Homo sapiens: one gene and its partners. The protein of the gene in region 1 interacts with the protein of each later gene in a pairwise test. Each region holds a gene or a part of one and is shown in the gene's direction. Other genes may lie near its edges.

Evidence for each region.
Region 2: the proteins of TNMD (region 1) and BNIP3 interact in binary tests that used the Homo sapiens proteins (3 or more experiments, as listed by UniProt).
Region 3: the proteins of TNMD (region 1) and BNIP3L interact in binary tests that used the Homo sapiens proteins (3 or more experiments, as listed by UniProt).

The regions. Positions count from the first base shown.
Region 1 is NC_000023.11:100,587,887-100,591,638, forward strand, and holds part of TNMD (tenomodulin), read left to right. Parts: intron 1-3,752. UniProt on the Homo sapiens protein: May be an angiogenesis inhibitor.
Region 2 is NC_000010.11:131,975,224-131,978,975, reverse strand, and holds part of BNIP3 (BCL2/adenovirus E1B 19 kDa protein-interacting protein 3), read left to right. Parts: intron 1-3,752. UniProt on the Homo sapiens protein: Apoptosis-inducing protein that can overcome BCL2 suppression. May play a role in repartitioning calcium between the two major intracellular calcium stores in association with BCL2.
Region 3 is NC_000008.11:26,392,916-26,396,667, forward strand, and holds part of BNIP3L (BCL2/adenovirus E1B 19 kDa protein-interacting protein 3-like), read left to right. Parts: intron 1-2,314; coding exon 2,315-2,387; intron 2,388-3,752.

The DNA.
Region 1 (3,752 bases):
GATTAAAATCCAGGCTCTTTGGGCTTTCCTTAACAAATCTATGAGACTTGTTGGGACTCTGTGGCCCTTGGTAGAGAGAGCTGTGCATGCAACTGTGCTTATTGGTGGCAGTGATTTGTTTGCAGTCCTGGGATTTCCTCCAAGCTCTTAGTGTTTGCTCTCCTAGCCTCCACCACGCCTCCTTTTTATTTTGTCTTTCAACATCTGTGTATAATAAACAGTATTTATTTAACATCCCACATCTGGTGTTGACATTTCCATGCCAATAAGTCCTTCTCCTCACTCCCGCTTTGGTGTGTACAAAAGATCCAGATTCCTGTATCCAAATTGAGAACAAGCCATGCTTGACCTCCTCCCCTCACATACCTCAGGTCTGCGTGCACACAGGTGTGCACACGCACAGACTCACACACACACAGACACACACACACACACACACAGACCAGAGAGAGAATGAAATCAAAATAAAGTGAAACAAGGACGACTAACTCTGGGTGAGCTGCTGCATTTTCTTACAGGTCCCAGGCCCCTGACCCACAGCCACATACAGGAGCCACCTGAGCTAAATGAAAGCCAGGTCCATCCAGCTCTGAATTCAGCTTTCTTAAACAAGCAGAAGAGACCTATTCAGTCCCAGCAATTTTGAGAAAGCATCGTAATGAGGCTCCCCTTCTAGGCAGTGACTGCCCTGGGATCATTGAAGCAGAATCACCAAAGAAACATTCTTGCTTAAAGCCCCCTGTATTACACATTTTACTGGAAACAGTCAGAAGCCAACTCCTCAGCTAATTAATCCAACATGAAGCAAACAAATCAGAAAAATCCTAGCCCTTAAACCAACAGTTTAGAAACTTAGCACAGACCTTGTAGCCCATCCCTGCCAATCCTTTGTGGAGCGAGGCAGAAGAATCATACATTTAATAAATGAAAGAGTGTCCTTACTGCCTTACATAGGAGCTGCCTGGTGACTTTAGGGTTGTTTGAAAGCCATCAGGACCACAGTAATCAATAGATTCGTGAGGATGTTCCTTCAACTTCTATATATTACCAGAGCAATGAGGAGTGGTAGGGATAAGCGGGCACTTTTCTGCCCTCCTGCCACACCTCAGTTGCAGGTGATCACTAAAACAGTCTCCCCCAGCGTTGTGAGTCCACTATCATTCTAGGTTGAAAATCCTTTGCTCAGAAGAAGCACTTTCTTGACGAGTCTGATTGCAACATTTTGTGCGTGCCTATTTCTTGGCACGCACAATTGGGCATTAGCCCAATATTAACTTTTTTCGCTCCTCTCTAGGCACACAAGGAAGACAACTTTTTTCTCCAGGTCCCCTGGGCTTTCCTACACCACAGTCCGGTGGGTGAAATGTGGGTCTAGAGAAACATTAATATACCCTCAAGGAAAAAGTTGAAGGAGTAGCCGGAATATTTTTGGCAGGGAGACTGAGCTTTACCAGATGGTGCCATGTTGGCATTTTCAAAAAAAAAAAAAAAAAAAAGACCTCTCTTCATTTTCCTCTTAAAGCATTGTGAGACCCAGGTCCACCCTTGTACAACTCTCACTGGGCCAGCTCTTATTCTGGGCTACTCAAGGGCAGCTCCCAGCAATTATGTGGAGCCAGGCTGTGGCTGTGATGGGCATGTTCTTCTTAGTCAGTCTCTTCATTCTCCTAAGGCAGCATTTGCTGAACAACTTATATGACACCAGGATGAAGAGCCTGGGCCTTCAAAGACAGCTGTTCTGGAGTGGTTGAGAGTGGAATTGGGGCTGTGGAGGAAGTAGCCTGGATGATCAACAGATAGTGGCAGTAGGCGTAGTCCAGTGATCAACCTGACAGGTTGATCTGAGCAAATCTCAGCAGACTTTGCTAACTATCTAACATTACAGATGAAAAGGGGTAAAGGATTAAAATAGGAACTGAGTCCCTAGAGACACTCAGTGATTTGCCCAAAATCACACAGCTTGTAAGTGGTGGGGTTAAGGTTAGAACTAGAGGCTAGTCTGAAGATTCTTTCCACTATTCTTCAGCTGCATTTAAGAATCAGGGATGGGGATAATGGGTAGGAGAAAAACTTACTGGTCAGCTCAAGTCTGTAGATAAAAGAAGTAGCTTTTTCTTGTTGAAAAAGAATGTCTGTGCTGCTTATGCCAATATTTTGCATATTGCCAAATGGTGATTGAAGATGCAGAACTCTAACTTTGCATAAGGAACAATCTGTCTGCTCTGTGTTGGTAAAGAAATACCCAGAGGCCCTTTAATTCCCCCAAGTTAGGTTAATAATAATATGGTACAGTGCATTCTCTTCCCTTCCTTCCAGCCTAACACCTGCTAGCCAGCTATTCTGAGCATGTATTTCACCTTTGGAGAGTGTACCTCATAACAGACAGTAAGGGATGAAGATGGAGTGAAGAGCAGCTAGATTAATCACAGGCTTCAAAAAACAAACCTAAGCCAAATGTCCTCAAATCCCTGTCAGGACAGGCTAAAGCTTCTTGCCCCTAAAACAGATCCATCACACTGAGGTCTGAGATAGCTTTACCTTTTCTAAATAGCTTTCTTTTCTGATCTCAGGGACTGCCACAGAGGCAAGAAAACAAGGAAAACTGTGAAAGAGGGATGTTAGGGCTCATTTGCTGCCTGAATGGAGGATTTAACTGGACTGAAGACAGAATTCCTGGGCAGGGAAGAAAAATGGGTTGTGTCCTCTACATATTTTGTCAGTGTGGTCTTCTTACACTTCTCACTGCCTGGACTTAACCACATATCTGTCTCATTTCACTTCTGATTCCTATTCCACTCCATTGGCTTCCTTGTTCCATTCCAGTGTTCTGGTTCTTATAGTTAAGGCCAGCCTTATGTGTGGGTGGAGTAAGAGCCCATTTGAGTGGTGCTGGAAAGATGCCCTTGCCCCCAAATATCTCCCATTCCTCGTGCCACTGTGCCTATTAGATTGGTGCAAAAGTAACTGTGGTTTTAGCCATTGAAAGTAATGGCAAAGTAATAAAGTAATAAAATCCACTATTAGTACTTCATTCCTCTGAGTGAAGTATTGCACTCAAATTTTTAAACAGACAAATATTCATCACTAATATCTAAGTGTGAAATCATGGGTCAGATTGATTTCTTCTTTGTCATAAGGTACCTGAAGCACCACGAGATTCCTAGATGTCTAGACAGGAGACAAAGGGACAGAAATGGGAAGAGAAAGGGGAAGGGCTATGAGGGTATAGAATGAACAGAATATGAAAATAGAGCAGAAAAGGAAAGCTAGAAGCACCAAAAATTAACTCTCTCTATTTTCCAATTGGGCAGGGGTGTACTCCTCATCATATTCTGTCCTTGCTCTATCCTCCCTGGAATAAAGCTGAGTTGGAGGCAGCTGAGATGAGCTACTTGTAGCCCACTCACACCTCTCTTCAGGCCAGTCATCCTGTCTCTGCTTTAGCTTGCTCCTGGAGAGGACAAAGCCATTTATTCTTTCATCTCCAGAAAGACCTTCAACCCCTGAGCCAGGAAGCTTAGTAGAGAGCAAAGTACTTGTGATGCCAAAGGCATGAGCTCAGTCTTCATACGGGCCAGTGAAGCTTGCATAGCCATTACCCAAGCAATGTGCTCCACAGGGACCCAGGCGAGACAGTGTGTCTGGATTTGCTCATACCCATCTCCAAACAGTCCAAAGTGGGCCACCAGCATCATCTTCCTAGACGAAGAACAGTCTGTTCCAAAAGGACACCTTTGATAGTGGAATTCTGT
Region 2 (3,752 bases), on another chromosome or scaffold:
CTTGATACTTGAAATCTTTTGTCAGGCGGGTCTCTTTTGTTCTCTCCCCACTAACCTGAGAAGCTTTAAAGGTAAAACAGCAATTTCTTAGAGCCCACCTCCCCTGGGGAAGAAGCCCTTTGTATGGTTTTGGGGTGCTAGTTCCCTCGGGGGTTCACAGCTCCTCTGCTTCAGGTTTTTTTTCTGGGATGCTGCCTCCCTCTGTTCTGACATTTATCCCAGAGCTTTTTCAATCTATTTGCCTGGATTCCACCCCAGCATCCCAAATAGTCACTTTCAGAGTGGGCTGAGGCTAGGCTTTTGGAGAACAATGAAAAAACACCACAGGTGATTCTCCCTTCATAGCCAGAGTTGAGGTTGTCACCCCAGGTTAGGGCATAGGGTGGCCTTGAGAACTTGGCCCTGTGTTTACTCCACGTGGGGCTCGTGGCTGTGGCCCATGAATCCATGTTGAGGAATGGGACCCAGGGAGTTGCCCTGGGACATACAGAGGGCAGTGAATCGAAGGGATTCCCTGGAGTCTGTCACTGGAGGGAGAACTGCTTTGGGCACCTAGAAAAGCTGGATGTCAGATGATTTTTTTTTTTTTTTTTTACACAAAGTGAGAATAAGAAATGGATTAAGAACTCTTGTTGGACTGTATTTTGTCTCTGAGGCAGACCTATCAGTTTTCTTTTTGTACTGTGATATAAATATTTATAGTCTAGGCTTTTCAAAATCTCATCTACCTTGATATAGGAGGGAGGTAAGATTTACTGGCTGTGTGTCTTGTTAGCAATGTAAATTATAAGTGAGTGAGGAGGGGGAGGAACATGAGAGGGACGCGAAATGAGATTAGGAAGGAGGGCTTTTCTTGCAGCAGCAACAGCAGCACCTTTCCGTCTGGGGCCTAATTATACTACAGTGATTTGAAGTGTAAACTGCTTGTGATTATGAGCAAGTTTTCTAAGGTTATTAAGCAACCTTACTGTAAGCCCATCTTTCTTTGAAAAGGTGAACGATCCGAGTGGAGAACTGTAACACGTGAGTAGATACACAGCACGCTCCATTCTCCAGGAAGTGCCTTCCTTTCCTACGCGGTTGCTGTGGGTTAATAATAAAACTCCTGTCCCTTAGTAAATCATTCCTGGGAATACAGCTTTTGGGCCCAAAGTCATTAGCCATGGACAATCTGGAGTGAGTTTTTTTTCCTTGTTTCCTGGATTTTTAGGTCCTTTCTGGGGTGATGTTTAAAAAGCACTGCTTTGGTTCGAATGTGTTCCTCCATGTTGCCAGTGGGATGGTAGTAAAAGGTGGGCCTTTAAGAGGTGGCTCGGCCATAGGGGCTCCTCTCTAGTGAATGGGATTAGTGCTCTAAGGGGCTGGATGGAGGGAGGTGGGTCCCTCTGTAGCCTCATTGAAGGGATGAGGCAGGAAGGCCCTCAGCCGACACCAGATGTTGGTGCGTGGATCTTGGACTTCCCAGCCTCCAGAACAGAGATCAGTTTCTGTTCGTAAATCACTAAGTCTGTGGGATTCTGTTGCAGTAGCGCAGAGGATGACAGAGATACACTTGTCTCTCCTTCATCTTCCTCTCCCTGTTGTCTTCAGCCTGCCCCTTGTGTGATAGATTACAGTATGTGTTTGGTCTTGACCCTACCTACTTCCTGGTGCAGAGCACCTAAACCCCTGGGGCTTCCTGAGCAGTGTCTTTTTTTTTTGTTTGAGACACAGAGTTTCGCTATTGTTGCCCAGGCTGGGGGGCAGTGGCATGATCTCGGCTCACTGCAACCTCCCCCTCTCAGGTTCAAGGGATTCTTCTGCCTCAGCTTCCCGAGTAGCTGGGATTACAGGCGCCCACCACGCCCAGCTAATTTTGTATTTTTAGTAGAGACGGGGTTTCACCATGTTGGTCAGGCTGGTCTCTGACTCCTGACCTCAGATGATCTGCCCGCCTCGGCCTCCCAAAGTGCTGGGATTACAGGCATGAACCGCTGTGCCAATAAGTGTCTTAAGCATGTTTATTAAAGAAAGTAAAACAGTAAAAAGATGGTGACTCCATAGGCAGAACAACCTGACCAGTGTGTGCGTTATTCATAAAGTCACCCTATTAGCAGTGTACTCCAAAAGTGCTCCTTGGTTAACCATTTTTGGTGTAAGTTGTAAGGAGCCCCTTCAGAATACACTGCTAATACAGTGGCTCAAGGGTGGCCCCAGGATAGTTACTTGAGGTAGAAATTCCCAGGGCAGCCCCTCCTAGGAGGGGAGGGGACTGGAGATGGAGATGGGGGAGCCATGAGGTGCGGGTAGCATGGTTGGGGTTAGGGTTGGGACATGTGGGGTAAGTGGGAGTCTGGTTGCAGAGAGTGTGGTTGGGGTTAGGGTTGGGACGTGTGGGGTAGGTGGGGATCTGGGCTGTATGTCATTTCCATTTGTCTGCCCTGGAATTGTTTCTGGTAAACTGATAAATGTAAGTAAAGAGTTTTTCTGAGTTCTGTGAATTGTAGTAAATTACTGAACCTGAGGCAGGTGTGTGGGATCCCCTGAGTAGGTAGAGGCACTGGCAGAAATACGGGTAACCTGGACACCCCATTCTCTGCTTGCATCTGTGGGAACAGTCTTGTGGGCTCCACACTAAGTCTAGGTAGATAGAATGGAATTGAATCGTTGGACACCCCGGTGGTGGTGACTTGGTGTCCCACATTTGATGTTAAGAGTGGCATCAGAGAAGAGACACCACACCTTCAAGTTGCATTTGTGTTCCATATCGTCAGATAGCTGAACAACACTTTAGTCAAGTAAATTGAAGCAGGCCCAGAATCTGAATACTGTAGATTCAGCGGAGAAAGACAGCTGGCCAAAACAGAGGCTGTGGTGCCGTTCTCTCAGGGGCAGGCCATGGCTAGCCGGCCGCATGGCATCTTGAACCGCAGAGAGGGAAGGAGGGCTAGTGAACATCAGAGTACTTGGCAATACTGTCTGGTCAGATGAGCGGCTTCAGGAATGGTGTGGTCTGTACATCTCAGAAGGCACCATGTAGCCTCTGCCAGAGTGTGGGGCAGACTGGCCTGGGCCTTTCTCCTCCATTGAGCTCCAGGCTCCGAGACAGACCCTGGCTTGCCTTTGTATTAGGGATGTGCTTCGTGTAGGCCAGGACATGAGGCAACGTGAGAGGCCAAAGAGAACAATCATGCGTTCATTTGAAAATTTGTGTGATCATTTCGTTAGCAGCTTACTGGGAGACTGTTGATGGCATAAGTTGCAAATCCACTTTTCCTTCCTGGGCCTTCGGTTTGCTTTTTTCTGGTTAATATGAAATAGACTCTGCAACAAGTGGCGTATGGAGCCTAGGCCAGCCCTCTTTCAGGAGAGATGCCTCGTGTGTGTGGAAAGCTGTGCACCTGCCTTTGCTTCCAGCGAACATGACGGATGAAGAGGCTGCTCCTTTCCCCCTAATTGCATGGTGTTATTAGTGCTGTGTTGGTTTAAGGACAGTCAGCAGCTCAGGGTGATTATTCTGCTTACTAAAATTATAGTGACTGCAAAAATGAGATAATTCCATTGTTCTCGTCCATAAGTTTCCCTGTCTTTTGTGGCCTGCACTTTCCTCCCACTGCACTCCATCCTCCATACGCTACCAGAGGAAGCTCCTACCAGATTTGCTTTAAATAAATAAACCTATGACACAAAGTAGAGAGATTATCTGGGGCCCAGAAATAGACGTGTGCCTATATGCACGCTTGATTTCTGACACAGGAAGCAGCCAGCGCAGA
Region 3 (3,752 bases), on another chromosome or scaffold:
TCTTACTTCATTTATGGTGCAGTTTTACGTGTGACTGAATATGCCTTCACCCTCCTATGATCATGTTTAAGTTTAGGTTGCCATGAGGAGGCATGGCAAATGCTTTTGAACACTTTCGTACCCCTCATCTTATGTCTCTCCAGGCCCTAGATTAGTGGTCATCTTTCAGAGAATGGCTAGAACTCGAGTCTTCTGGGATAGCCTACTAACACGCTTTACCATTGAGGAGTGTCTTCAAAACTCACATCATCTGAATTGCCATGCGTCTCTATATGTGAAAAGTAATTGGAAAGTGTTTCTTGTAGGGGGAAATGTTTTAGGGTTGTTGGGTATCAGTCCTAGAGCTGATTTATGTATATTTTCAACTTAAAAATTATTCCATAGAAATATTTGTGTTGCCGCAGGGGTTGTTAGCTGGGAACCCCAGTGTGTTCTGCTTTGCCTTTCACCCTGTCACAGGGGTTTTCACCTTGACGGCACACTAGATTCACCCAGAAGCTTTTAAAAATGGCAGCACATGGACTGCATCTCAAGAACTTCTCATTTTGGTTGACAGGGGCAGGGTAGAGACGTCACAATATTTTAAAAGCTCCCCAGCCGATTCTAATATGTGCCATGGGTGAAGCTCTAATGCATTCCAAATTGTTAGGAGGAGTAAACAGTTTAGAGAAGAGGTTGGTACCAGTGTGAAGAAGCATATAGAAGCAGAGCAATGCTTCCATAGGATTCTTGACTTTGTCACCCTGACTGCCTTGACCTGGTCACGGCTATGTAAGGCTGACCCTTAACTTGATGTGTAGCTGTGAACCCAACAGTTATGAGCACAAAGATAGTAAACTGAGGCCAGTAGGAGTGCCCAGTTCGGGTTGACTCCTGTGCTAGTTCAAGACAAAAATTTCCTAAATATATATGACGTTGGTTTGATACAGAACCAGCTTTTCTGTTTTCCTGTCCCCATTTAAAAATCTCCTATGTCAATTATACTAGTCTAAAAGACTCCTAGGCCTAATCTGTCTGATAAATTTCTGACGATCTTATTTCTGAGTCAGTCTCACCAACGTCTCTATACATTAATTAACATTATATACATACTCTTGATAACTTTAATAGTTAATATCTATTCTTTTCAGCAAGTTAAGCCCCAAATATTTTTTATTTCTATTTTAGATTTTGGGGGAGGGTTTGTGTATGTAGTGAAGGATCCCCAGTGACTTTCAGTTTTTATACAAGAAATCATTAATAAAGCTAAGAAATTAACTTAGCACATTCTGTTCATCTCTTGTATCAAGTGCAGTTTGTGATCATGTTGTTTTTGTCTAAAAACTTATTTGTAAATTTTTACAGTTCTAAGAATGTATTTTGTGCAATCATAAAGGTTTTATATTAATATATAAGTTATATAATTCACTCTGAAATATCTCAAAGCAAATATTTCTGAAATAAGTAAAATAGTGGTTCTCAAAGTTTTTGGTCATTACATACCTTTACATTCTTAAAAATCATTAGGGACCCCAAAAAACTTGTTTGTGGGTTTATATATTTTGATATTTACTATATTAGAAATTAAAACTGAGAAAATATATATTCATTCAAAAATAATACATTTTAACATAAGTAGCATTTTTTAGTGAAAATACCTATTTTCTATAAACCCTCCAAGTTAATAAGAATAGTGGCATTGTTTTACACATTTACAAATCTCTAATACCAAGCTTAATAGAAGACAGCTGGTTCTCATCTGTGTTTGCATTCTAACTGTTGTGCTATCACACATCATGTAGCCTTTGGAAAATTCCACTATACACATGGGAGAATGAGAATGAAAAAGGCAAATAAATCCTACTAGTATTGAGAAAGGAACTGTAACCTCAAAGACCCTCTGAAAGCGTCTTTGAGAACTACCTTATGCACTTTGAGAACTACTGGTGAATTATTTAATGATGAGGGAACTTTGAGAAAAAGAACTCTGAAGTTCCTGAATTTGAAGATTATTTTACCTTTAGTGGACAAAAGAGTAAATATAAGAGAATGTGACAGTTTGTGTCTGTAGATAGTATTTCCTTTGCAAATTTATCATTTTGAAGGATTTCATTACTACTGAAAAAGTGCAGAACATTTTGGGAGTAAGAATGCTCAATTTCATTTAGCCTTTTAATATCACATAAATTTTTCTTGTATAGGGTTATGATATATTCTCTGATTTGCTTTTTCAAAGCCATACTGCTGTAACTTTTAATTTTCTAATTTCTAGTAGAGACTAAGTCATTTGACAAAGTGAGAATTAAAACTAATAGCTGAATTCCTTCTCTTCTAGCCCTTCGCCACAAGAAGATGGGCAGATCATGTTTGATGTGGAAATGCACACCAGCAGGGACCATAGCTCTCAGGTGTGTCGGGGGGATTCTGATTTACAGTAAACAATTAAGAAAGATGTAAATTCTCTAAGTATATTTTGCTAAAATAAATGTGAAGACTTTTAGGAATAGTTTGAAGCTATTATTGAGTTTCTGATTTTGGAATTTATTTAGGATGATATAGTTCTTGTCGCACTCCTTTACAACTAAGGATTTTGGGCCCTGTCACTCTAAACGAATTGGAAAATTCTTGTCCATAATAAATCATGCCAATACTCCAGGCTAGTTTCTTGAGTGTATAAGTAGAAAAAGACTGAGATAGATGCTTTAAGACCACAGAATAGGGAGGAGCCAAGATGGCTGAATAGGAACAGCTCCGGTCTACAGCTCCCAGCATGAGCGACGCAGAAGACGGGTGATTTCTGCATTTCCATCTGAGGTACCGGGTTCATCTCACTAGGGAGTGCCAGACAGTGGGCGCAGGCCAGTGGGTGCGCGCACCGTGCGCGAGCCGAAGCAGGGCGAGGCATTGCCTCACCTGGGAAGCGCAAGGGGTCAGGGAGTTCCCTTTCCGAGTCAAAGAAAGGGGTGACGGACGCACCTGGAAAATCGGGTCACTCCCACCCGAATATTGTGCTTTTCAGACCGGCTTAAAAAACGGCGCACCACGAGACTATATCCCACACCTGGCTCGGAGGGTCCTATGCCCACGGAATCTCGCTGATTGCTAGCACAGCAGTCTGAGATCAAACTGCAAGGCGGCAGCGAGGCTGGGGGAGGGGCGCCCGCCATTGCCCAGGCTTGCTTAGGTAAACAGAGCAGCCGGGAAGCTCGAACTGGGTGGAGCCCACCACAGCTCAAGGAGGCCTGCCTGCCTCTGTAGGCTCCACCTCTGGGGGCAGGGCACAGACAAACAAAAAGACAGCAGTAACCTCTGCAGACTTAAATGTCCCTGTCTGACAGCTTTGAAGAGAGCAGTGGTTCTCCCAGCACGCAGCTGGAGATCTGAGAACGGGCAGACTGCCTCCTCAAGTGGGTCCCTGACCCCTGACCCCCGAGCAGCCTAACTGGGAGGCACCCCCCAGCAGGGGCACACTGACACCTCACACGGCAGGGTATTCCAACAGACCTGCAGCTGAGGGTCCTGTCTGTTAGAAGGAAAACTAACAAACAGAAAGGACATCCACACCGAAAACCCATCTGTACATCACCATCATCAAAGACCAAAAGTAGATAAAACCACAAAGATGGGGAAAAAACAGAACAGAAAAACTGGAAACTCTAAAACACAGAGCGCCTCTCCTCCTCCAAAGGAACGCAGTTCCTCACCAGCAACGGAACAAAGCTGGATGGAGAATGATTTTGACGAGCTGAGAGAAGAAGGCTTCAGACGATCAA